Linked DNA regions of Homo sapiens. The protein of the gene in region 6 purifies or fractionates together with the protein of the main gene of each other region. This does not show direct contact. Each region holds a gene or a part of one and is shown on either strand. Other genes may lie near its edges. The genes, in order: PPME1, MTMR4, TES, CNKSR2, SCCPDH, ENSA and IREB2.

Evidence for each region.
Region 1: the proteins of ENSA (region 6) and PPME1 purify together in Homo sapiens (affinity purification with mass spectrometry; one large-scale study listed by BioGRID and IntAct). This does not show direct contact.
Region 2: the proteins of ENSA (region 6) and MTMR4 purify together in Homo sapiens (affinity purification with mass spectrometry; one large-scale study listed by BioGRID and IntAct). This does not show direct contact.
Region 3: the proteins of ENSA (region 6) and TES fractionate together in Homo sapiens (co-fractionation; one large-scale study listed by BioGRID). This does not show direct contact.
Region 4: the proteins of ENSA (region 6) and CNKSR2 purify together in Homo sapiens (co-immunoprecipitation; one large-scale study listed by IntAct). This does not show direct contact.
Region 5: the proteins of ENSA (region 6) and SCCPDH purify together in Homo sapiens (affinity purification with mass spectrometry; one large-scale study listed by BioGRID and IntAct). This does not show direct contact.
Region 7: the proteins of ENSA (region 6) and IREB2 purify together in Homo sapiens (affinity purification with mass spectrometry; one large-scale study listed by BioGRID and IntAct). This does not show direct contact.

The regions. Positions count from the first base shown.
Region 1 is NC_000011.10:74,174,289-74,177,788, reverse strand, and holds part of PPME1 (protein phosphatase methylesterase 1), read right to left. Parts: intron 1-3,500. UniProt on the Homo sapiens protein: Demethylates proteins that have been reversibly carboxymethylated. Demethylates PPP2CB (in vitro) and PPP2CA. Binding to PPP2CA displaces the manganese ion and inactivates the enzyme.
Region 2 is NC_000017.11:58,497,639-58,501,138, reverse strand, and holds part of MTMR4 (phosphatidylinositol-3,5-bisphosphate 3-phosphatase MTMR4), read left to right. Parts: intron 1-3,500. UniProt on the Homo sapiens protein: Lipid phosphatase that specifically dephosphorylates the D-3 position of phosphatidylinositol 3-phosphate and phosphatidylinositol 3,5-bisphosphate, generating phosphatidylinositol and phosphatidylinositol 5-phosphate.
Region 3 is NC_000007.14:116,213,539-116,217,038, forward strand, and holds part of TES (testin), read left to right. Parts: intron 1-3,500. UniProt on the Homo sapiens protein: Scaffold protein that may play a role in cell adhesion, cell spreading and in the reorganization of the actin cytoskeleton. Plays a role in the regulation of cell proliferation. May act as a tumor suppressor. Inhibits tumor cell growth.
Region 4 is NC_000023.11:21,373,060-21,377,222, forward strand, and holds the start of CNKSR2 (connector enhancer of kinase suppressor of ras 2), read left to right. Parts: upstream 1-1,363; 5' UTR 1,364-1,838; coding exon 1,839-1,902; intron 1,903-4,163. Other genes in the region: uncharacterized protein LOC105373146, read right to left, coding at 924-1,363.
Region 5 is NC_000001.11:246,737,909-246,741,408, forward strand, and holds part of SCCPDH (saccharopine dehydrogenase-like oxidoreductase), read left to right. Parts: intron 1-2,263; coding exon 2,264-2,393; intron 2,394-3,500.
Region 6 is NC_000001.11:150,626,813-150,630,869, reverse strand, and holds the start of ENSA (alpha-endosulfine), read left to right. Parts: upstream 1-1,257; 5' UTR 1,258-1,399; coding exon 1,400-1,456; intron 1,457-1,730; exon of another isoform or gene 1,731-1,764; coding exon of another isoform or gene 1,765-1,809; intron 1,810-3,277; coding exon 3,278-3,403; coding exon of another isoform or gene 3,404-3,538; exon of another isoform or gene 3,539-3,824; intron 3,825-4,057. UniProt on the Homo sapiens protein: Protein phosphatase inhibitor that specifically inhibits protein phosphatase 2A (PP2A) during mitosis.
Region 7 is NC_000015.10:78,441,216-78,444,715, forward strand, and holds part of IREB2 (iron-responsive element-binding protein 2), read left to right. Parts: intron 1-3,500. UniProt on the Homo sapiens protein: RNA-binding protein that binds to iron-responsive elements (IRES), which are stem-loop structures found in the 5'-UTR of ferritin, and delta aminolevulinic acid synthase mRNAs, and in the 3'-UTR of transferrin receptor mRNA.

The DNA.
Region 1 (3,500 bases), on a different chromosome or scaffold from region 6:
CAAGGAACATTCAACATCATAAAAACGTTTATTCTAAATTAATGTTTGTATTTAATGTAATCCCAATAAAAATACTATCAGGATTTTTTTCTGGCACTAGTCTATGGGATTAGAAAGTTTATTTGTGAGAAAAAAACAAGAGGAACCACGAAAATCCTCAAAATGAATGAGGGGTAAACAACCTCTACCACCCATCAAAACATATTAATAAATCCTCTAATTAAAAGTACAGTAGTGGCACGTAAAAGAAACTCCACAGACCCGGATTTATATAGAAATTTGGCATATGACAAAGGTGTCATTTTAATCAGTGAGAAAGAAGACTTTTTTTTTTTTTTTTGAGACAAAGTCTCACTCTGTGTCCCAGGCTAGAGTGCAGGGGCATTATCTTGGCTCACTGCAACCTTTGCTTCCCGGACTCAAATGATCCTCCAGAGTAGCTGGGACTACAGGCACACACCACCACACCCAGCTAAATTTTTGTGATTTTTGTAGAGAAGAGGTTTCACCATGTTGTCCAGGCTGGTCTCCAACTCCCAAGCTCAAGTGGTCCACATGCCTTGGCCTCCCAAAGTGCTGGGATTACAGGCATGGACCACTGAGCCTGGCCAGGACTATTTCTTTATTGTAGTGAAATTTACGTAATGGGTAAAGGACTAAAAAATTTAATAAATGATGAAAACAACTAGATAGCCTTTGGATAAAAATAAAATGTCTTCTTTTCCTCACTTTGCATATCAAGATAAACTTCAAATGGATTAAAAAAAAATTGGCTCATGCCTGTAATCCCAGCACTTTGGAAGGCTGAGGTGGGTGGATTACCTGGGGCCAGGAGTTCAAGAGCAGCCTGGCCAACATAATGAAACCCCGTCTCTACTAAAAATACAAAAATTAGCTGGGTGTGGTGGTGCATGCCTGTAATCCCAGCTACTTGGGAGGCTGAAGCAGGAGAATCGCCTGAACCCGGGAAGTGGAGGTTGTAGTGGGCCAAGATCACACCACTGCACTCCATCCGGCCTCGGTGACAGAGCAAGACTCTGTCTCAAAAAAAAAAAAAAAAAAAAAAAGGACACTACACAGGTACCAGGAAAAAATATAAATGATTCCTTTATAACCCAAAAAAAGGAAAAGCCTTTCTGTGACTCAAGATCCAGAAGCAATACATGCTGGGAGGAAGGGAAGATGCTAATGAGTAACGAGTTTATGGGAGGATGAAAATGTTCTGCAATTAGTGGTGGTAATTGTACAACTGAGTGAATATACCAAAAATCACTGAATTGTACATTTAAAAGAGTGAATTCTATGGCATATAAATTTAACTTTTTAAAAATCTAATGAAAAAATAAAAAAAAAAACAGAAATACTGGGATTTGATTATTTTAGTAACTCAATTTGTGACCTTGAGCAAATCACTTCACTTTGCCCTTTATTTCCCCATCTGTGTGAATAGCTCATTAAAGCCTTCCTAAGAGGCCTGATATCCATAATAAATTTAAGAAGATGGATGAAAGACTATCTAATCAGATATGAATAAACATACAGCTTGTGGGGACAAAAAAGCTGATAACATAAGAAACTGAAAGGAGAGCTTCCACATAAACTATGAACCTTCTTCACAGTTCTCAATGTATAATTATCTACTAGCTATCATTCTTTAAGAGCTTATGTGTCAGTGTCAGGAACTATAAGTGCTTTTTATGTATTATCTTATTCTCACAGCACTCTCAGGTAAGCAGAAGTATTCTCATTTTAGAGATAAGAAAATAGACTATGAGAAGTTAAATGACTCGACCAATGTAAATACCTAAGTTGGGCTTCAAACTTAGATCTTTGTCACTTCAAATATCAAACCCTTCAATGCAAGCTATAGAAAGAACAATGGACTAAAAATACGAAGTCCTGGGTTTGAATGTTGTTCCTGCCACATAATGATTCTGTGATCTTAGGCAAGTCAATGAACATTTCAGTTTTCTCATTTATTAAAAGAAAATATTAACTCCTGCCCTAGTTTACCTCATAGAATATAAAAAGGGACTACTATATACATGTCAGTTAAATCACTACAGAGCTGGGCATGCTAGCATGTATCCTCAGTCCTACCTACTCAAGAGGATGAAGTGGGAAGACTGCTTGAGCCCACGAGTTTGAGGTTGTAATGCACCAAGATTATGCCTGTGAAAAGCCACTGTACTTCAGCCTGGGCAACACAGCAAGACTCTATCTCTTGCAAAAGAAAAAAAAAGGAATTTAAGAGATAATAATAGAAAAGTAGAACTTTTTTTTTTTTGAGATGGAGTTTCGCTCTTGTTGCCCTGGCTGGAGTGCAATGGCGCGATCTCGGCTCACCACAACCTCCGCCTCCCAGGTTCAAGTGATTCTCCTGCCTCAGCCTCCTGAGTAGCTGGGATTACAGGCATGTGCCACCACGCCAGCTAATTTTGTATTTTTAGGAGAGACGGTGTTTTTCTATGTTGGTCAGGCTGGTCTTGAACTCCCGACCTCAGGTGATCCACCCGCCTCGGCCTCCCAAAGTGCTGAGATTACAGGCATGAGCCACCACACCTGGCCAAAAAGTACAACTACTGATAAACCAAAAACACGTTGAATAATGAATGGCTTTAATATTTTATAGTTCCTCTAATAGTAATAGTATATACGAAAGCAGTGACTTTCAAAAGATACTTCTCTCAAGCACACCAGGGGTGCAAAGCAAATAGGGATCTCAAATCTACTTTAGTCAGAGTAGCTCTAAAAGCTTTAATAAAGAAGTTCAAAACCACTGTTTTTGGCAACATCCATTGGCATCTATTAAAAGGAAGAGTGACACCAGGATTTCAGGCCTTACCCAAGAGAAAATATTAGTGTACTGAAAAGTGAATGGATTCTAGAGACTAAACTTAGATTGAATCCTAGCTCTGCTACCTACTAGTTGGGTTACTTTTAATCTCTGGGTCTGAATGTCTTTACCCACAATGCAGGAAAATATTCACCATGCAGGTCTGTGGACACATTAAATAACATAAAGTTACCATTACAATGTCTGGCACACAGTACTTACTTTAAAAATTGCTATTATTAAATTATCCAACAATACTTTGGAATTACTAAATCTAATCTGAAAAACTGAATTATGGAAACTCATGAAAAATCACCAACTCAGAATATGCACCCTGAATATGCAAACATGCCTAAATAATGTTTAGTGAAATTGAAGGCAAGAGATCATGAAAAATAGTTAAGAGTAAGCCACACAAGAGACTATCAAGAGAACAGGACTAACTTGTGAGTAACATAGATAGAGTGGAAGAATGGAAGTTAAGAAAAAAGCAAGTAAGCATAAGGAGACATAAAGAATGCTTTGAAATTGGTGTGAGACTTCATAAATTACGACTGAAGAAAAAGACTGAATCCTAGATTATATGCAAATGAGTAAGATACACAACTCAAAATAAGTATCCCCAGATGACAATTATGACTCCAAAATACACAATGGGTCTCAC
Region 2 (3,500 bases), on a different chromosome or scaffold from region 6:
GTTTTAGGGTCTTTTGAACTAAGTCATTGTGAGGGGACCGTGATAGGTTTCAGGATTTCAGTGATTTTTTTTTTCCTTCCCCAAACTATGCAGAATTTGGCTACAGGTTCATAGGTTTACTTTTCCTGGGAGAGGGGCCATAACTTTTAATCAAATTTTTAATAAGCTCTGTGACCCATTTAATAATCATTTCATTAACTTAGTATCTGATTTATCAATTCAACAAATGTTTCTTTAATACCTACAAGTTGCGTATTACTGTACTAGGTTTTGTGGGCTACAGCAAAGAAATAGAAGATATTGGTTCTACTTTCAAGATAATTTTAAGCTGTAAGATAAGACACAGAACAACTAGAGAGAGCAATTCTTTTTTTTTTTTTTTTTTTTTTTTGAGACAGAATCTCGCTCTGTCACCGGTTGGAGTGCAGTGGCGCAATCTTGGCTCACTGCAACCTCCGCCTCCCGGGTTCAAGTGATTCTTCTGTCTCAGCCTCCCGAGTATCTGGGACTACAGGTGCCCACCACCACACCTGGCTAGTTTTTTGTATTTTTAGTAGAGACGGGGTTTCACCATGTTGGCCAGGATGGTCTCGATCTCTTGACCTCGTAATCTACCCGCCTCGGCCTCCCAAAGTGCTGGGATTACCAGACCCGGCCAACTAGAGAACAATTCTAAGTCAACATCTAAGCAGATAAGAATGTGTGTAGTTCAGGCTGGGTGCAGTGGCTCATGCCTGTAATCCCAGCACTTTGGGAGGCCAAGGTGCGCAGATTGCTTGAGCCCAGGAGTTTGAGACCAACCTGGGCAACATGGTAGAACCCCACCTCTACAAAAAATGCAAAAATTAGCCAGGCATGGTGGCGTGCGCCTGTGGTCCCAGCTACTTGGAGGGCTGACGTAGGAGGATTGTTTGCTCCCAGCAGGTTGAGGCTGCAGTGAGCTGTGATCATGCCATTGCACTCCAGCCTGGGTGACACAGCGAGACCTTGTCTCAAAAAAACAAATGTGTGTAGTTCAAAGCTTTAGAGAAATGATGTGTTTTTTAAAAGGGTCACTTGGTGGCTGTTTTACTCAGGAAATTTTCATGAAGGACCAGACAAGAACTGTGGGTCTTTTTGTGTTCTGTGTATCTGGCTTAGAACCTGGCACGTAATAAGTAAATTTAAATAAATTTACTAAAGTAAAAATTTACTTAAAACTGGACAAATGGCTGGGCGTGGTGGCTCATGCTTGTAATCCCAGCACTTTGGGAGGCCGAGGCGGGCGGATCATGAGGTCAGGAGATCAAGACCATCCTGGCTAACACGGTGAAACCCCGTCTCTACTAAAAATACAAAAAAAAAAAAAATTAGCCGGGCGTGGTGGCAGGCGCCTGTAGTCCCAGCTACTCTGGAGGCTGAGGCAGGAGAATGGTATGAACCTGGGAAGGCGGAGTTTGCAGTGAGCAGAGATCGCGCCACTGCACTCCAGCCCGGGCAACAGAGTGAGACTGTCTCAAAAAAAAAAAAAACTGGACAAATGAATGAAATAAAGGGAGTTGTGAGCTCAGTAACAAGGTTAGTGGAGAGGGGTCCAAAGCAAGTGGATACATGAGAGGTAGGGTTTTCTCGCTCCATTGCCCAGCTGGAGTGCAGTCACATGATCTTCTCAGCTCACTCCGCCCACCGGGTTCAAGTGATTCTTCTGCCTCAGCCTCCCGAGTAACTGGGATTACAGGTGTGTGCCACTACACCTGGCTAATTTTTGTATTTTTAGTAGAGACGGGGTTTCGCCATGTTGGCCAAGCTGGTCTCGAACTCCTGACCTCAAGTGATCCGCTCACCTTGGCCTCCCAAAGTGCTAGGATTATAGGTGTGAGCCACTGCACCTGGGTGAGAGGTAGTTTTTTTTTTTTTAAAAAAAAAAGAAGTTCTGTGGCTGGCAGGGGTTGAGAAGGGGCTATTTTAAGGAATAGTGGAAATATAGGACAGGTCATTGAGGGCATTGAAGGCTTTAAACATTACAGTGAAGAGTTTATTTTGATTCAGTTGTCAATAGGAAGTCATTGTAGGAAGTTACTGTGGTCTGCTGACAGTGGGATCCTTGGAGAACTAATCAGTGAGTACAGGGTAGCTGGAGGCACAGAGACCAGCCAGCACTGCTGTAGTAGTTCAGATATGAGGGGAAGAGTCCCTGGCAAAGAGAAAGGATTAAATTCAGAAGCACTGTAGAGAACCATTGGCAGGCTACAGAATTGAAAGTTGGAGAGTAGAAGTGAAAAGTACTTTGGGTCCCAAGTATCTGAGCTTAAAAAGTAGGAGAATATTAGTACCACTAATAGACATTGAAAGGTCGAGAAGACCAGCCAGTTTGGGGAGAAAGCGGAGATACAGGGAAATTGGGATTGAAATATTAGTTGACAGCAAAGAAGGAGGTGTGTTGTAGGCAGCTCAAGATGGAGAGTAGATTTCGAGAAATAATTGGTATAAAGATTTTAAAGGAAATGGTCTCTGTAACAACTGACCTGACTTACCTTTGATTCTACCTTTCCCTAGATCAAAAATGTCCTTCTTCTTCTCCTTCTTCTCCCCCTCCTCCCCCTCCTCCCCCCTCCTCCCCCCTCCTCCCCCGCTTCTCCTTCTCCTTCTCCTCCTCCTTCTTCTTCTTCTTCCATTAAAGTCATAAACACATTCTTCTATACCCATCTCAAATCCTACCCTCTCTCTGTAGCCTTCCTTGACCTCCTAGCTGGATGAGCTCTCTCTCCTTGTTGTAAACTCAGGTATTATTATCTCTGTCAACATTGCTGACTAACCTTTGGTACACATAGAATGAGTTGTGGAGGATGGCAGAATGTTGTTATTTGAATTTGGATGAAGAGCACATGGAAGTTAATTATATTCTTCTTTTTGTTGTTGTTTGAGACAGAGTCTTGCTCTGTCACCCAGGCTGGAATATAGTGGTGCGATCTCGGCTCACTGCAACCTCTGCCTCTTGCCTCCCAGGTTCAAGCGATTCTCATGCCTCAGCCTCCCAAGTAGGAGCTGGGTTTACAGGCATGCACCACCATGCCCAGCTAGTTTTTGTATTTTTAGTAGAGATGGGATTTCACCATGTTGGCCAGGCTGGTCTTGGACTTGTGGCCTCGAGAGATCTGCCTGCCTTGACCTCCCAAAGTGTTGAGATTATAGGCATGAGCCACTGTGCCCAGCATATTCTTTACTTCTTTTGTATGCTTGAAAGTTTCCATAATAAAAAATAAAATGAAAGAAGTCAGCTGTGGCACTTAAAAGAATACAGATCCCTAGGCCCCACTCTTGGCCATTCTTATTCAGTAGGTCTTGGGTGGACCCTGGTTGTCTGGATGTCTAAGAAGATCCACTAAGATGCCTGATGTGTATCACACATTCAATTGGCACCTAGCAGTGGAAACCTCATGTTGTATTTTGAGCTCATTCATTCATTTCTCAAGTCATTTGCCCCTGGTACTGTGCTAGGCGCTGGGGATTCAAATAAGACA
Region 3 (3,500 bases), on a different chromosome or scaffold from region 6:
AATTCTTGGTTTGTAAAAGGAAAGCTCGTCCACATCAGTTGTACAAATTGGGATTAATTACCAGTTAAAACCCACCATCACAAAGACAAGGGGTTTTTATAATTAGATTTTGCTATATTTTGTTTTGTTTGAAGAAAGCGAGCTGTTGCTAGGATGTGGGAGCTAGTTTGGTTATACAAAGTTTTTGTTTTAATAATACTTTAGAACAGAATTGATTCTATGTCCTTGCCCTGTCTTCTGAGTTACACATCTAGACCTCTTTCTTATTTTTTAAGTCTCATCTTAATTGGCTTTGTGTCAGTATGGTCCATGTCTGCTTGGGAAAAACAGTGGACTTTGAGAAGCAGAAACAGTCTCATTTTGCGGTGAATGGTAAATCATGGCCAACAGCCAGCTGTTTTCCTCTTTCCTTTCTGTGTTACTCTCCCATGAGAAATATTTTTTTTCAATTAAGAACATACCAACAGAGAAAGAGAACTACAATAATTTCCCTTTTACTGCCTGGAATTGCTGCAGGGCTTTTTCATTTTACCGTGTTCATTTTTTCTCTCCTCTAACCCCTTTATTTTGATTAATCCTAATATTTTGCATACTTTTCTTAAGACTCTTATTTCTTTAATTTTACTTTTTAAAAATATGATGCATTTTAAAGATTACATGTTACTAAAAATCCCCTTTCTCTGTATCCAAACTTGTTTTCAAAACCTTTGTCATTAGCCAAAAAAGCATAGTGAAACCAAATGAATACTATTGGAAAAAGGACTAAACTACAAAGATTATTTCCATTGGAAATTAGAATGAGTTATTTGCCTTAGGTAGCCCCTGGTTGAAGTGGAAAAGGCAATATATGGTGACCTGGATGCTCAAATCTACAATTGCATTCCAGGCTTGAAGCCATTCTTGCTGCAAGAACCATTGGCAAGACTAAGGGTAAAGGTAGGGCAAGGCACATCCAGGGCTTTGCTTTAGAGGTGTTCTGCCTCTCTGAACAAGTGCAGAAGAAAATGAGTGGTCCTCGGCCAGGCTTTTATAAAACTATTCTAACCCATGGTGTGATTCATTACATTGGTAGAATATGAAAAGTCCCTTTCTCTTAATTGTCCTGAATATTGGTTGGAGAAAAAAACTATAGTAGGTTTTCTATTGATTCTGTTCCTTTATGCTGTCCTATGAAGTAGAAATAGGAATTTATATTGCTACTGGCTATTACCTATGTCCCATCAACTCACCCTATGACTTTGCTTGTGCATGCCCATACTCCATCTACAGTTCTAAATTTTTTCCATCCTTCAAGGACCAACCCTTCACACTGCACACTCCTCTAGGAAATCTTTCTCCATGCTGCCACCTAGATGAAAAATATTTTCTCCTTTTCTCCTGAATTCCCAAAACATGTTATTGGTAACACTTAGGACACTAATCACTCTCCACCTCTGGATTATACTTATCTGTTGTATGTTTCACCTTCTTACCTTGCTTACAAACTTCTTGAGAGATGAATCCATATCCTGTTACACTTACGTGGTTATTTTGTTTGCTGTTCAAAGCAACCTTAGGAAGTAGGCCTTAGCCCCATTTTCAGGATGAAGAAACTAAAAGTTTAGATAGCGTAATCTGAAACCTTACTATAGAGAACTTTACTATGAACTTGAACCATAATTTGAAGAATCCATGCTGCTTCCATCATGCCAACTAGGCCGAGTCTTATATTCTTCATCTTGCTCACTAAATATATGTGGAATGATAACTGTTATAAAAAGAGAAATAAAATAAGGTACATTTCAACACTTTCACTCATTTTTTAAAGGAATTATATTTGAGGAAGTGGTTTATATTCCAATAAAATCACCATCCTGCTAGTTTTCTATATTTTGTTTCTACTTTGTCCATGTTGTATGTATTCCCTTTAGTGTAAGTTGCCATTGACATTCTTTGGGCAGAGGCAAAGTATACGAAAAGTAAAAGTATTGTGAAAAGGAGTTTCTGGGAAACTTCTACAGTCAAAGAAATAGCATAAACTCCAATAATATTCTGTACCTTATCTTCTAAGATTCTCCCAACTTCCTGACTTTTGGTGTGAGCCAATGGTAATGCTGTCTCCTAACTATGTAAAATGGCCCTAGGTAACAGTGACCCTGTATTTGGCTCTTTGTTTTGTTAAGTTTAACCAATGGCATCTGGAACTATAAAGGGATGCTCGTGGTCTTTTCTCGTGTTGAGCTCTGCAGTTGAGAGAAAGCCTTACACATAGCATGAGTAGGCTAAACCTCTTTTCCCTTGTAGCAAAGTGTTCAGAGTGCCTCTGGAGTGGCAGACCAGACAGCTAAGAATGGAGCAGCTAAAAAGAAACAAAAAACAAACAAAAAACCTCTTAATATTGGGAGAACTATTTTTTTGTTTTAATTTCCCATTCTTCATGCAAAAACATTTCTTATGAAGCTGAGAAGCTGTGGGAAACACCAAAATGATCAGATATTTCATGAGGCTCTCATGGAGCTCCAGAGTGACATCCAGCATTGTTAGCATGCGATCAACATCATAGACCATCAGTGTGCAACACGAGTTACCAAGAGGGGCTTTCTTAGTGGAAAGAGAGTGATAAATTGGTAACATGGAAGCTACTTCCTGTGTTCTTTTTCTGAGAACTAGAAGAAGGAATACAAGTTGGCCCCATGCTAATGTGTATATACCTTTTTTACATACCAATCACTAGTGTGTTTAGAAATTAGGAAAGGTCAGTAAGTCTCCAGTATATATAAACATCTATAGTGTATGGAAAGGTCTTCCATAGTGTATCCGTTTTCTCACTTCCATTTATCAGTATAATATATTTAAAATTGCCCTAAGCTGAGAGTTGGTAGATCCGAGTCCACTATTTTTTGTGATATTAACCACTTTGGCTATCAATTTCTATTTATATAAAAATCAGTAGGGGAACCAGATGATTTCTGAGGTTTCTCCAAGTCCTGTGACTCTTTGATCGTGGGAAATAATATCAGTAGTCTACCATGTGTAATGTTCCACAGTGCTTTAAAATCACACAAATGAAGAACATATATGTATAAATATATACATAAAGGAGATGGCATAGTTTAAATGTTAGTGAATTCCATGAAGAACCTATAGATTGAACCAAATAATTTTTTTCCACAAATCTTAGCTATTTTCAACTTGTTTGTACTTAATTTTCATAATATTTGTGGAGGTATTTGAAGATATTAGGTTAAGTTTAATTAATTTAAATCTGTAGTATAAGGCTCTGAAGGCTGTAATAGTGTGGGTCCCATAAGTCTAGGAGTGATGTATTACTTACCTTGGTATTTAATTATGGGAAAATGAAAAATAATGGAACATTTATTTTCTTTAAAAGTTATCTCTCTCAAAATAAGGCTGTTAAAATAATTTTAAAAGATTAAAAAAAAACTATATGAGTGCTTTTTTACGTACCATGCACTGTTCTAGACTCTGGGGTTATAGTTGTGAACAAGAATGACACTGAA
Region 4 (4,163 bases), on a different chromosome or scaffold from region 6:
TCTTAAATTTTACTTGTTCGCTATCACTAGCATTGAAATCAGCAGTTAAAAACGTCACAATATTTTAACTACTGTGGTTTCAGCTGTTTGTGTGTGTGTGTGTGGGGGGGAAGGGTGTCGTCAACTCATGCCGGTTAAAGAACGTGACATTTCTGCATCTTATAAAATTGGACTAGAGAAAATGGGTTACCATAGGAACTGGCAAAACCTATTGACATTACTGGAATGCTTATTTAAAAAGTTTCTTTTACTTAATGGACCTATTTAAGAATGATAGAGAAAACGCCTATAACGGTGGCAGAGAGTTAGCATCTACACTCTAGGAATATTTGTCTTTTAAAGTGAAGCCTCATTAGGCAAACTGTATTTTACTAACCGTTGCATAGTAGCCTGTGTATGGTTTTTGAAGAAAATGAGTTTTGAAAAATCATGTCTACAATTTGTCACTCATTTTAAATCCCATTGTTGCCCTTCGGTTCTTATTAATATATAAGAATATCAAACACAAAATGACTTCTCTAAAATAGGTACTTTAGAGGAGTTGGCCCAAAACCTGAAACAGAGCCCTTTAAAATGGTACTTGGGGCAGAACCTGTCTCAGGATCACCACAACCAGCAGCTGGCAGGTGACAGCCTCAACGCCTGACTTCCCAGGACCCGCTCATCACCCGGGGAAGATCCGACAGCACTAGCCCTCCTGCCTCATCATCGCTGCGCTTCTGGCAGGCGGAGCCCCGTTCTCGTCCACGGCAGTCCACACCTCCGTCTCTGCAGGCGTACGCGGGTCTCGGGAATCACCTCCGGAGCCCACTCAGCAGCGGGGAGGGCGAGGGCGAAAGCGAGAGCCAGGAAAGCCCGGGCTCTCGCTGTAAGCCCCGCGCTCAGTGGTGTCCCCCTCCCCTCGGTGGTGGGGCCGCGGATACCTCCTCAGCCGCCTCAGCTGTCGGAGTTCAACTGGTGGGCGGCCCGTCCCGCCGTGGCCGCCACCGCCGGGTCCCCTCAGAGGCCTCACAAAGCCATGCTCCAGCCGCCCGCACCTGATTGACCGACCCCGGGCTCTGGCTCTGCCTCGCGCCGCCACCGCCTCCGCCGCCGCGCACGCGCACTTCGCGCGCCTCTGTTCCCGGACGGCCCCCAGAGCGGGAACGCCAGGCTGCGAGCTGCTGGCACCTGTCTGCCTGCCAGACAGACCCTGGGCTCCGGCCTCGTGCCGGCACGCGCACGCGCACGCGCCTCGCGCGCCTGCCGTCGGCCCTGGGGGCGGGACCGCGCGGCAGCGAGCGGGCGGGGGGCTCGTGGCGCGCGCGCCCCGCACCCGAGGGCTGCGGAGAGATATTTTGGGTGGCAGGAGGCCCCTCGTCATTTCCGCCGGGCAGCTAGTCGTGCTCGGGGCTTCACTCCCGCGCGTGAGGCGAGCGGGCAAGTTGGCTGAGGGCGTGCGGCAGAGGCTGCTTCCCTCGGCGACGCGACCCCTCAGCAACTCAAGCTATGAACTGAAGCTCCCTAGGGACGGAGACCGGAGCGGAGCGGCGGAGGCAGCAGCAGCAGCAGCAGCAGCAGCAGCAGCAGCAGCCGCCGCCGCCGCCGCCTTAGCGGGAACTGAGCAGACCCGGCGCGGAGCCACGACTCCTGCACGTTTACCTCCCTGTCGCCGTTCCTGCCGGCGGTTGGCTAAAAGACGTTACAGCCGCGAGACCCGACACACAAAAGCCGCTTTCTCCGCGCCGCCCGCCCAGGGAGGCTGCGGCCAGCAAGGGACCCCACCTGAGAGCAGCTCGGGCTGCTGAGTTCGTTTTGTGTCTGAGCTCTGCGCTCTGCACGGAACCGACCCCGTACCCATGGCTCTGATAATGGAACCGGTGAGCAAATGGTCTCCGAGTCAAGTAGTGGACTGGATGAAAGGTAATGCCCGCTGCGGGGAGGGTGAGGCGGCACTGGGGCGCGGGGCACCAGTGCGAGGTTAGGAGGGGGCGCCCGCCGCGCCAGAGCCCGCCACCGCGGCTTCCACTGGCGGATCGTCGTACGCGTCGGGGCGGGGGTCCTCCAGGACTGGCAGGGGCCTGGGGTCCCCGGTCTCCTTTTGTCTCCAGCTAGAGGGGCGCGGAGCGGCCAGAGAGCTAGAGGGCAGCGGGCGCCACCCCGTTGGAGGCAGGAAGTCGGGAGGCAGAATACCGGCGCATCTTGCGTACTCCCCTCTCCCCTTACTGCCCCCGGGCCAGGAGGACGTGGCGACCCTTATCTCCCAGCTCAGGGTGGACTCCCCCAGGACCTGCTCCCCTGGTCGCCCTTTCCTGGCCCCTTTGTTCCTGGGAAAGCTGACGCCCCCTCGGCGGCCGCCCTTGCCAGGTGCCTTCCCCAGCGCCAACTCTCCCAAGCAACTTTTAGCCCACATAATGGGGTCAGGACGCGGCCGCCCCCATTCGGAGCCTGGCATCCCCCCACACCCAGATTTGGCTGAGGATGCCCAGGGTGGGGGTATGTGCTACTTTGAGGGTGAGGACATCATGCTTCCCCTGGGACAGCATCCTTGCTGCTGTCTCTGGGCTGCCTCCAGCGCATCCCCTCGCATCCTTTGCCTTCTCTGCTTTCTCCCTTTCAAGCCAGTCGAGGTTTTGGACCTCACGGCTTTTTATTAAGGGCTCAACGCCAGATGTAAGGTGATGCGCATTCAGGTACCTTCACATTTCTTCCATCTTGAAGGTTCCCCCTTTTGTCCCTGGCGATTTATAATAACCACAGTTATAGACACTCACCCTCCTAATCGCAAACGTGAGCTTTTTTTCTGATCCCTGGGCTTTCCTGTCTCACTACCTCCCTCTGTTGTCTGAGTTAAGGGGCTTGTAGAGGACTCCCCCACCCACCAACCCCTTGGATCCTCAGGCCCAACTCTTCCCTAAGATTTTGGGAATTGAAGAGGGGATGGATGGGATGGAATGGAATAAAGGATGCGTGGCCACACTTGGGAAATGTTAGCGCTTTGCTCGAGGTCATACCTGAGCAAACTCTAGGTAGATCAGTCAGGGACCAAAGGCTTATTATCGCTGAAAATGCCCGTTCCTACGATGAAGGAGCCCCTTCTTGGGCTTACTTAACAGTCAGACTTTCTAAGCTCCAGATAATTTAGAACGAAAGGTGAGGTGATTGGGAGGGATTGAGAGTGACAGGGAGAAACTGATTTTTTTTGCTCATTCTTTTCCCCAGCCTTTTTGGCCGCTTGCTTATTCTTGTGGATTTTTCTTTATTTTGCTTTCCTTTTATTCCCTTACTTGCCCCTTTATTCCTCATTTACTTTGCTTTTCTTTTCTAATATGTGGAAACTGCTTTGTAACTGCTAAGCAGTACAAATGTGAGTGAATTGAATTAAACCTAATACATTATTTATCGACTGCACCCCTGTGTGCAGTGCATTGTGCTAAGGTGCCATGGGGGATATAAAGATGACTAAGACAAAGTCCTGCAGTGGCTCATCTTTGCTGCTGCTTTTTCTCTTTATGTATTTGCTATTGAAATTCCAATATCTTAGATTCCCACCAATTATCCTCACTCTCCACCTTCTCCGTTTCTCAGTGATGGAAGAAAGAGCCAGAGTATATACAGGAAGCAACAATGCTTAAAACCCCGTTCTTTGAATTTGTCTAAAAGGTTACTTTAGTTTGAGTCTGTTGCTGAAATATTAAAAGACAAGCTATCTTGGCTCCATGGGAGTCTGATTACCTTCATAGACTACCTTTCGCAAATTCCCATGATGCCTGTAGTGAGTGCTGCATACTCAGTCTCCACCTCCCACCCTCCCAGTTATATTCTTGCAGTTTCCCCTCTCTCCATAGTTTAGGTCCACTGAAGCAAGTAGAATATATGATGCACCTATTCTGACACACATTATTAGTTGTCCAGTACACCAGTCCTTTAAAAATCTTTCCAGCCTAAAATGTGGCTTCTTTGAAGTTAGGTTAACATTGTTAGCTGTGATTTGAAAATTTTTTTTAAATGTAAGTCGAATACCTTGTTTTCATACCTGTTGGTGACGCATTTTAGAGCTATTTGAAAAGATCAATTGGGTAGCCAAGATAGTTTGTGTATCGTGTATACATATGACTGGAAGAGAATGAATGATATAATTACCTGTATATTTCAAATCCCAGACTACTTACTGCTGAAATTTC
Region 5 (3,500 bases), about 96 Mb from region 6:
TAAGGAGTTGGGCACGTTGGCTCATACCTGTAATCTCAGCACTCTGGGAAGCCAAAGTGGGTGGATCACTTGAGGCCAGGAGTTTGAGGCCAGCCTGGCCAACATGGCGAAACCCCATCTCTACTAAAAATACAAAAATCAGCCAAGCATGGTGGTGCACGTCTGCAATCCCAGCTACTCAGAAGGCTGAGGCATGAGAATCACTTGAACCCAGGAGTTGGAGGTTGCAGTAAGCCAAGATTGCGCCACTGCACTCCAGCCTGGGCAACAGGGTCGGATCCTGTCTCAAAACAACAACAACAAACCTATTAAAGAACCAGAGGGCTGGGTGCGGTGGCTCACACCTGTAATCCCAGTGCTTTGGGAGGCCGAGGCAGGCGGATCACGAGGTCAAGAGATCGAGACCATCTTGGCCAACATGGTGAAACCCCATCTCTATTAAAAATACAAAAGTTAGCTGGGCGTGGTGGTGCACGCCTGTAGTCCCAGCTACTTGGGAGGCTGAGGCAAGAGAATCGCTTGAACCTGGGAGTCGGAGGTTGCAATGAGCCAAGATCATGCCACTGCACTCCAGCCTGGCGACAGAGTGGGACTCCGTCTCAAAAAAAAAAAACCCAGAGTATTTAAAGAACTTTTACAAGACAATAATAGAAATAAAGACAATTTATTTTAAAAATGGGCAGGGGATGTAATCCTAGCACTTTGGGAGGCCGAGGCACGTGGATCACCTGAGGTCAGGAGTTTGAGACCAGCCTGACCAACATGGAGAAACCCTGTCTCCACTAAAAATAGAAAATTAGCTGGGCGTGGTGGCAGGTGCTGTAAACCCAGCTACTCGGGAAGCTGAGGCAGCAGAATCGCTTGAACCCGCGAGGTGGAGGTTGCAGTGAGCCGAGTCTGCACCATCGCACTCCAGCCCGGGCAACAGTGCGAGACTCCGTCTCAAAACAAAACAAAACCAAAAAGGCAGGGATGAGAAGAGACAAATCTTCTTTGTGGAAGAATTCCAAATGATTTATGTAGCTTCTCCACATTTATGTGCAAGCAGCTGTGTGTGTGACTGAGTGTGTTAATGTGTTTGTATGTGTGTGACTATGTTAGTGTGACTTAATGTGTTTGTGTGTGCATGAGCAAGTGTGTGTGTGTGATTGTGTTCGTGTGTGTTTGTGTATGTGCATGAATGGGTGTGTGTGGTGTGTGTTTGTGTCTGGTATGTGCTTGAACAGGTGTGATTGTGTTTGTGTGTCACCTTCTGGGAGAGGGAGCATAAATTGACAGTGGAGAAACCTGGTGAACACTGCCTCAGCCAGGTGTTCAAGTCAGCATTAACCCTGGTAAATCATGTTGACAGTGCGTAGCCCCGATGTGATATGATATGATAAGAATAGCACTTTACCCCTGTGGTCTCTTTCCAAAACTCATAATAATAATGAGAAAAGCATGAGACAAATTCCAGTAGAGGGGCACTCTACAAAATGCCTGACCAGTACTCCTCAAAACCATCAAGGTCATCAGAGACAAGGAAAGTGTGAGAAACCGTCGCAGCCAAAAGAAGCCGAAGGAGACGTAACAACCGAATGTAATCCTGGATGGGATCCTGGAGCAGAAAAAGGGGTTCAGTTAAAACTAAGGGAATCAGAATGAACTGTGAACTTTAGTGAATTAAATCATATATGTCAGTACTGGTTCATTAATTGTAACCACTGTTCATGTAAAAGATGTTAAAAATAGAGAAAACTGGGTTTCAGAGTACTTGGGAACTCTCTACTATTCAATTTTTCTGTAAATCTTAAACTGTTTTTAAAAAGGAATTTCTAAAAACAGGCAGAAGAGCAGAGCAGACATTATTCCCCTGTGCCCTCTGCCACCATCTACTTTCCTGCTCTCTGTCTGTACGTGTGCGGAGCTTTATGTCTGTGATGATGTTCATCTGGGTAATGCTGTTTGGGGTCATTTTTTTTTTGCTTTCTATTTTTTATATTTTAATATTTTATAATAGGCATTACTTTTATATTTAAAAGTCATTCTAAAAAAATTAAGTGTCATACAGTCAGACGAGCACAACTTCTGTACCACCTGGTGTGCAGTAGGCGCTGTATTTGCCGAATAAGTGGAAAATATTTTGACAGTTAATGTTTTGCTGCAGAGCCACACTGCTTAGCATTTTCAAAGTTTGGTTGCTTTGTTTTTAAAGATAAATTATTTAATACTGGTCTACATCTTTCTGCATAACTAATTAAAATTCTTATCCTGGATTTTTTAGTTTCTGGAACTAATGCAACTGAAGTATCATGAGAAAGCTGCAGACAAAGGGGTTTATATCATTGGAAGCAGCGGCTTTGACTCCATTCCAGCAGATCTGGGAGTAATATATACCAGAAATAAAATGAATGGTAATTATTGATCAATAAGCAATAATGGAATTTAACAGTACCGTGCAAAGGCTTCATGTTTCTAACTGTGGTGAACTAAAATCTAGTTGAAAAAAGAAACATAGCCATAAATGGGTAATATTAAACACATGTTTTGTTTTTAATATAGCTGCACTTTTAATAAAATGCTATTGAGACTATTGTTGAGACATGGATAATACTGTATTTTACAGTGATATATTATTGTCTCAGTATAGTTTGGGCTGTAAAATTTCTGGAAAACAACTTTGGCAACGTTATAAATTCAAACTTGCTTTGTTTAGGAATCAGCACATTTTAAAGCATAATTTGTATATTATAGTTAAAAGGTTTTAAATTTTTAACCGTCAAAGCTAGAAAGTATTGAACACAGAATTGGAGACACTTATTTAAGAATGGAGAAAATAATGTTACGATAAAACATTTGAAGTTACTGATGTTTTGCATATTTAAGAGTGTCTGGTTTAGAAAATTACCTGAGCAGGGTGTGGTGGCTTACACCCATAATCTTAGCTACTTGGGAGGTTGAGGCAGCAGGATCTCTCGAGGCCAAGAGTTCAGGACCAGCCTGGGCAACATAGTAAGACTCGTCCCTAAGAAATAAAAAAAAATTAGCCAGGTGTGGTGGTGCACACCTGTAGTCAGTCCCAGCTCCTCAGGAGGCTGAGGTAGGAGGATCACTTGAACCCAGGAGTTTGAGGCTTTAGTAAGCTATGATTGCACCACTGCACTCTAGCCTGGGTTACAGAGTGAGACCTTGTCTCTTAGAAAAAAGCAAAAAAACAAAAAAACAAAAACAAAAAACAAAACTGAAACAGGTAACTTCAGTACCATATAAAGTGTTCTAGACTTAAAAAATTGGAAAATGTTCCAGCATATATTAAAAAGTTAGCATAACTATGAAACCAAAGTCCAACAAAGATAGCACACACACACACAAACTACAAATCTTGCTTATGAAATTAAAAGTAAAAAGAAAATACTATATAAAATTTTAATCCAGTGCCATTTTAAAAAGTTTTTTAAGAGACAGGATCTTGCTCTGCCGTAGCTCACCGTAACGAATGCCTGGGCTCAGGCAGTGCTCCC
Region 6 (4,057 bases):
ATGATCCACCCTCATCGGCCTCCCAAGGTGCTGGGATTACATGCGTGGGCCACCGTGCCCAGCCTTGTTTTGTATTTCTAGTAGAGACAGGGTTTCACCATGTTGGCCAGGCTGGTTTCGAACTCCTGACCTCAAGTGATTCGCCCGCCTACGCCTCCCAGAGTGCTGGCATTACAGGCGTGAGTCACCGCGCCCAGCCAGGCCTGTAAGCTTTCTAAGGGCAGAGACTGCCTTACTATACACGTACCCCCCCCAACTAACACAGTACCATCCACATACAGACAGACGCCCAGGAAATGTTAAACTGTAATTCTGGATAGGTTAACTAGTATTAACCGTATTTACCAAATGTTTACCACATACTTACACTGTCCTCCTTGTTTCAAGGAGCGTAGTCCCCAAGGGATCACCCTGATGGAATATAAAAACTACACATAAGAGTGAAACTACGGAACGTAAGCCATTAGTGTTTTGCAAGACAGCTCGGGTTGAGACTCAGTCTCTCTCTTCCACAGGCCAAGTGACACATCGTAATACCATTGGTACCGTTTTATTTTATTTTTCGCGACAAAGTCTCGTCCTGTCACCCAGGCTGGAGTGCAGTGGCGCGATTTCGGCTCACTGCAACCTCCGCCTGCAGGGTTCAAGCGATTCTCCTGCCTCAGCCTCCCAAGTAATTGGGATTACAAACGCCCGCCACCACGCCCGGCTAATATTTGTATTTTTAGTAGAGACGGGGTTTCACCATGTTGGTCAGGCTGGTCTCGAACTCCTAACCTCAGGTGATCCGCCCACCTCGGCCTCCCAAAGTGCTAGGATTACAGGCGTGAGGCACCGCGCCCGGCCTGTTAGTACTACTTTAAAATCGAATCTGACCTCCAAATCATTTTCTGGAGCTCGATCATTTTCTGCTAACACCGCAAAGCTTAATCCTCTCCACCTGAGAATAAAAGGTTCCATCCTTCCGCTCTCCAGTTTGACGCCCTGCTAAGTCTCTCGGACGCGGTGGGCTGGAGTGAAGGAAGCCGGAGCCCACCAAAGCTGCAAAAGTACCACAGCCAGCAGCCCCGCCCCCGATATCCCCCACAGGCTTCCAATTGGTCCTTGTGGCTCACTCTCTTTCCAGGTTGGTGTTCCAGCTTGCCGGTCGCCTCTATAGAGCCCACCTTTAGACGGCGACTATTGGTAGATCGTTACGTCATTGCCCTATCTACCTCACTCCCACTGGCTCTCATAGGAAGGGGCGGTCGCAACGTCACGGGCAAGGGCCGCCATTTTGACTGAGCAACCCTAGTGACAGGAGCCGAAGCAGCAGCGCAGGTTGTCCCCGTTTCCCCTCCCCCTTCCCTTCTCCGGTTGCCTTCCCGGGCCCCTTACACTCCACAGTCCCGGTCCCGCCATGTCCCAGAAACAAGAAGAAGAGAACCCTGCGGAGGAGACCGGCGAGGAGAAGCAGGTGAAGTGGAAGGGGTGCGGGCGGGCGAGCTGGGGAGACCGTGATGGGGCGGGAGACGGTCTCCCACCAGTGCGGATTGGTCGCCATGGTCTCAGGCTCCGCAGGGGTTGGCCACTTTTTGCGTCACGCTGGGTGAGCTTCAACACGACATGCTGCTTTGGCGCTGGTTAGTTGGGTCGTTTGTCACTCAGTACTGTACTCTTCCTGATTGGCCAATAGGCCTACCGCTCAAACCTTGGACGCTGTGCTATAATTGGCCGAGCATGGACGTGGGGCGGGTGGTTGGAAAGACGGTGAATGGAAAGGGGATGGCTGGTGGTCTTGGGTGTGATGTGTGTTATTGGTTTGTAGAGGTAAGTGACCCAGCAACCGGGCTGGGGCCCGCAGCCTCAATCCGCAAAGATAGGGGTCGAGGTAAAGACGTTTAAAAAAAAACCAGTATTGGGGGAGGGGAGAAGTGTAGTTATTATAATGGCTAGTTTAAGGCGGCAACTTTCTCAAGAGACCTATTTTAGTAGCTAAGGATGGTCTATTGCTCACCTTCAGTGAGGACCCAGCAATATTGAAGAGGGCTAGAGTTCCAAACAGAATCATGGTAATTAAACTTGGAAAAGACGCCGACAGGGTCGTGAGAAAGACACTTCTCTCTTCCCCTAGACTTCCAAGGCAGGGACTTAGTGCACCTGCGATTCCGTGATGGAAACACTAACGCCAAATAAACCCCTTATTGGGGTTTGTATTTGACTTTTAAAATTTAGTACTGGGTTCAGGTACTCATTAAATACACTTGGTGTTATATCTATGCGTAATTTCCAAGAGAAAGGAATATAATTCCACTAAAAAGAGTCATACGTTGACTTCATATCTTTTCAAAAAGTCACTAAAGGGCAGCAGGGACCACAAAAAAAAAAAAAAGAGATTGACTACAGTAGTGAGAGTCCCTGCACCACCAGGGTAGGTATTGATTTTTTTGATGAAAACTGGTGGGTAAATACTAGTGAGCCTACTGTATCTTTGTTTTCCTGAGGTTAAAAACAGTATCATTTTCCTCTCTGTTTATCAGCTTGCTACCATAATATTTGTGGAAATGTTGAAGCAAGGCTGTGCCATTACTCAGGTGGAGATCTTTGGAGAAGGCCACATAGCTAGCCGCCTCCACAGGGAGACCTAACAGGTGGCTTAGACCTTGAATAAAGAAGGAACTGCTTTGTCGTGTAGCAATTTTAAAAAAGAAAGAAAAAAATAAGGAGGAAACATTTAGCAAACTATTTTTTGTTGTTGTAGAGACGGGGTTTCAACATATTGCCCAGGCGGGTAGTGAATTCATGAGCTCAAGTGATGCACCTGCCTCAGCCTCCCAAAGTGCTGGGATTACAGGCATGAGTCACTGCTCCCAGCCCCAAACTATTTTTTTTTTAATTTCTCATGTGACATGTAGGATAGCCTAGGGAACCCTGCTACTCATCCTCTATCACCAGAAGCCCTGCTTTTTTCTCTTTGTCTTTCTTAGCATTTGTGCTGAGTGATATGGCCCACTCTGTGATTAAAGTATTGTGTTTAGTATTACCTTTAGCCCAATACGCACAGGTCCCTGGCTGGTTCCTTGGGTGAAGTGTGAGAAGCAGCTTGTCTTTTTCTCTCACAATAGTCATCTTGAGCTTTAGGGATTTTAACAAAGGTCTAGCTTTAACAGCAGAGTAGAGATAGCGTATTTACAAGTGGGTGGATTTCCAGGAGAAGTTGATAGTATAGTTGTTATCAGATGTGAGAAGCTGTTGTTTCTCAGTCTTTAATTTTATTTGGCTCATTTGTTTTCTCCAGGACACGCAGGAGAAAGAAGGTATTCTGCCTGAGAGAGCTGAAGAGGCAAAGCTAAAGGCCAAATACCCAAGCCTAGGACAAAAGCCTGGAGGCTCCGACTTCCTCATGAAGAGACTCCAGAAAGGGGTATGGGGCATAGTCTCTTACCCTCTTTCTTTGGAGCTAAAGGAGGTTCTTCGAATGAAGTCTGTAGAGGTTCTACTGGATCCTTTTCTGGAGGTTTTGTTGTTGAACAGAAGTAGAGGCGAATTTGAAATTTGAAAAGAGCAAGTCAAATTAATGTAAATCCCTGATGTGGTATCAATTCCCTCCTGATTTCCCATGTAGGAAATTAAGGCCTAAATTGGAGCATTTGGGTGTGTGGGGAAATGAGGGAAAGATGTTAGAAACTGAAATGCAGACTGCCCCCAGGCATTTGCCTGTTTGAATGTTGGAGGTTTTAGGATTGTGCACTTTTTAAGCATTAGAGATAAATTTTGGGATGCATCATTTCAGAAGAAGATCAAACCATCTCTCCTACAGAAATAAATCCTCAACTTGAAATGAATCAGTTTCTTCATACCCTTGAAGTGAGCACCAGCCATTAATTATACTCCTGCAGCAAATGTATTTTTCTTGTTCAGAGTGGTCCTCCTTACCAAGAGAGAGTCTACTTTCATAGCCATGTAGCTCCTGATCAGATTTTTAGTTCCCAAAGGTACCTAAAGCTGACTGAGGGATTATATTATCGTTTTTTAAAAAAAAAATTTGGCCAGGCGCAGTGGCTCACGCCTGTAATCC
Region 7 (3,500 bases), on a different chromosome or scaffold from region 6:
AATTAGGCTGTCATTTAAAAATAAACAGTTTGCCAAAATGAGAGCAATATCCTTTACCTTGCATGTTTAGCTGCAGTGATTTGTGTTGATACGTTTGTTAAAGGAAGTTGGTCATTTTCTTAATGTATGTCTTTCACATTAATTTTATCCCTTCACTGATGGTGAGTTTGCATTAATTTTGAAAAGAAACAGCTAGATTGATCGTTTACAAGAATAGTCATTTTATTTCCCATTTACTTCTCCAAAATAATCTAGTGATACTGGCTTGGAAGTCTTTTAACCCAAATTTCATAGTTTAATAAATTAAAGGAGCACATAAGATGTTTTGAAAATTGAGTATAAATACTTTCTGTGTATAATCTGTAGAAATGTGCTTACTTGAAGGAAGATGACCTAAATTTCTCAAATTTAAGGAATCAGTAGGAAACTGTCAAAAACAACTGTAAAATGCATTGAAAGGGAATGATTGATAATCTGAAAGTTAAATTTTCCCTGGGAAATAAGTTGTCATGGGAATTTGTACATAACTGTACAGAGTACATGTGTACTTAACATAATTCCAGAATTACCAGTTTTTATAACCATGATAAATGTAATAATAGAATACCTGTGACTATAAATACTTTCAAAACAGAAAGTTGGTTTTTATGTGGGGTCAGTACCCTGGTTTTTATTTTATTTTATTTTATTTTATTTTACTTATTTTTTTGAGACAGGATCTTGCTCTGTCACCCAGGCTGGAGTGCAATGGTGTGATCTCAGCTCACTGCTGCCTCTGCCTCCTGAGTTCAAGCGATTCTCGTGCCTTAACCTCCCAAGTAGCTGGTACTATAGGCGTGCATCACCACACCCAGCTAGTTGTAGAGATGGTGGTTTTACCATGTTGGTCAGGGTGATCTCAAACTCCTGACCTCAAGTGATCCACCCACCTCAGCCTCTCAAAGTGCTGGGATTACAGGAGTGAGCCACTGCGCCCAGCCCCTCCTGCTTTTTTAATAGAGTGCTTATTATGAGAGGTTATTAAGTAATAATTACTTAAGTAATTTCCTAATAAGGAATAAAATTTGAAGAATTGACTTTGAAAGAAAGGAACAAGTTAGGTAGGAAGTATTTGGTTGTTTAACCTTAGAACAAAAAATCCTTATTGCATTTTTGAAAGGATCAGATTGAATTGCCTCCTAGACATATGCTTACAAGAAGACATTGCTTTGGTAGTCACCAAGGTACAGAGCCAGTCTTCTCCACCTCCATTCCACATTTTGATGCCTGCTAGGTTGAGAATGACTGTTGTAATGAGTAACGATTAATGAAGGGAATGGATTCTATCCCTCATAAATGTTACAGAGTAAAGATAGTTGAGAAACACTGTTCTAAGCTCCATGCTGACTATGTCAGGGATGCCTGCAGCTGCAAAGAACTGAAAACTTGCTGTCCAATGACTTTAAGAAATACGAGTTTATTTTTCTAACATAACGAAGTGTGGAGATTGGCAGACTGGGGCTGTGCAGCACCAATCTCCGCAAGGATCTAGGCTCGTCCTTTCTTCCCGTTCTGTTTTTATTCTTTTGGTTGCACCTCCAGGCATTATGTCCAAGTTAAATTTTCCCTGGGAAATAAGCTGTCATGGGAATTTGTACATAACTGTACAGAGTACATGTGTACTTAACATAATTCCAGAATTACCAGTTTTTATAACCATGATAAAAGCCCTCTCCAGGGGCTTTTGCCTCTTTGGCCAAAGTATCAGTGGCCACTCTTAGCTTCAAGAAGGCTGAAAGATGGAATAATCAAGGTCTTCTCTTACTCATGGGGGATATGTTCCAAGACCCTCAGTAGACACCGGAGACTATGGGTACTACCAAACCGTGTATGTACTGTTTGGTATATATTTTTTTCTATACATACATAGCTATGATAAAACTTAATTTATAAATGAGGCACAGTAGAGATTAATAATAACTAATAATAAAATAGAACAGTTATAACAATGTACTGTAATAAAAGTTATGTGAATATGGTCTTTCTCTTTCAAAGTATCTTATTGTGCTGTTCTGCAGGTAACTGAAACCACAGAAAGCCAAACCATAGATAAGATGGGGTACTGTATTTTACCTTTACATCTTTTACAATAGAGAAAGGAAAGGGAGAAGTGGTTGGGAGTGGGTGGTGAGTGAACCAGCCTAATCTATCTGCGTTACCAACCTGATGCCTTCTCTTATTCTGACTTTAGATAGAGTTCAACACAGATTATTTGATTTCTGCTTTTTTACTGCCATTTTATCCTTTTGCTTCCCAAATTTATACTCAGGGTATCTCTATGGAAGTGGGCACATCTTAGACATTGATTACATTTTGATCTTGTATGATTTTGCTTGTGGGGAATCTCCTTTGTTTTTTTATTTTTTGTGGGGTTTTTTTTGTTTTTTGTTTTATTTTGTTTTGTTTTTTTGAGACAGAGGCTCGCTCTGTTACCTAGGCTGGAGTGCAGTGGCATGATCTTGGTTCATTGCCACCTCCATCTCCAGGGTTCAAACGATTCTCGTGCCTCAGCCTCCCAAGTAGCTGGGACTACAGGTGTGTGCCACCACATCCGGCTGATTTTTTATTTTTAGTAGAGATGGAGTTTCGCCATATTAACAAGGCTGGTCTCAAACTCCTGACCTCAAGCAGTCCTCCTGCCTTGGCCTCCCAAAGTGCTGGGATTATAGGCGTGAACCACTGCACGCAGCCAGTTGTGGGGAATCTCTTTAATATTCTGGAGCTGGCTGTCTGGCACTCCCAATGTGCTGACTAGAAACATGTCAAAATCTAGGTAGTCTCAAAATGTAGATTTTGAGTAACTCTTTAAAAAAAAAAATTATAAAGATGGAGTTTTACTGTCAACCTGGCTGGAGTGCTCTGACATGATGATAGCTCACTGGAGCCTTGAACTCCTGAGCTCAGGAGATCCTCCCACCTCACCCTCTCAAGTAGCTGATTTGGGTGACTCTCTTAAGTAGATCTCTGAATTTGAAACTATTGCTATTTTTAAGGAGTGGAGAAATCAGTGGTGTCTCCATGTATGATGGAGGACAGTTAACATCAGAGAATTAGAATGAACAGCATAATGGAAACATGAATGACTATGTTGAATGAAGGGGAAGATGGTGGAGAGACTGGCCTGGCTGGAGTGAAAGGTAGTTTTGAGAGAGTACCTGTTACTGGGCAACAGGGCCTCTGGTGGTGTAAAGCCCCCAGGCACCCTTTATCTCAGGTCATCTTATTCACCCTTTCTTTTGTCCTTCCTGTCTGCTTGCCTTTTTAACCACAGTACTGCTTAGTCCTCCAGTAGAGCCGGGACTTAGTGTCCAAATCCTACCTTGCAGCCTTTGGAAGAAAATCCTGTATTTAATTTTTTAGGAGAGTTTTTATCATTTAGAAGAATCACAAAAAGACAAGAACATTGCAGATGGTACAGAAAGTCTCATTTTTATGTGTATACAAAAATATATGTAAATATG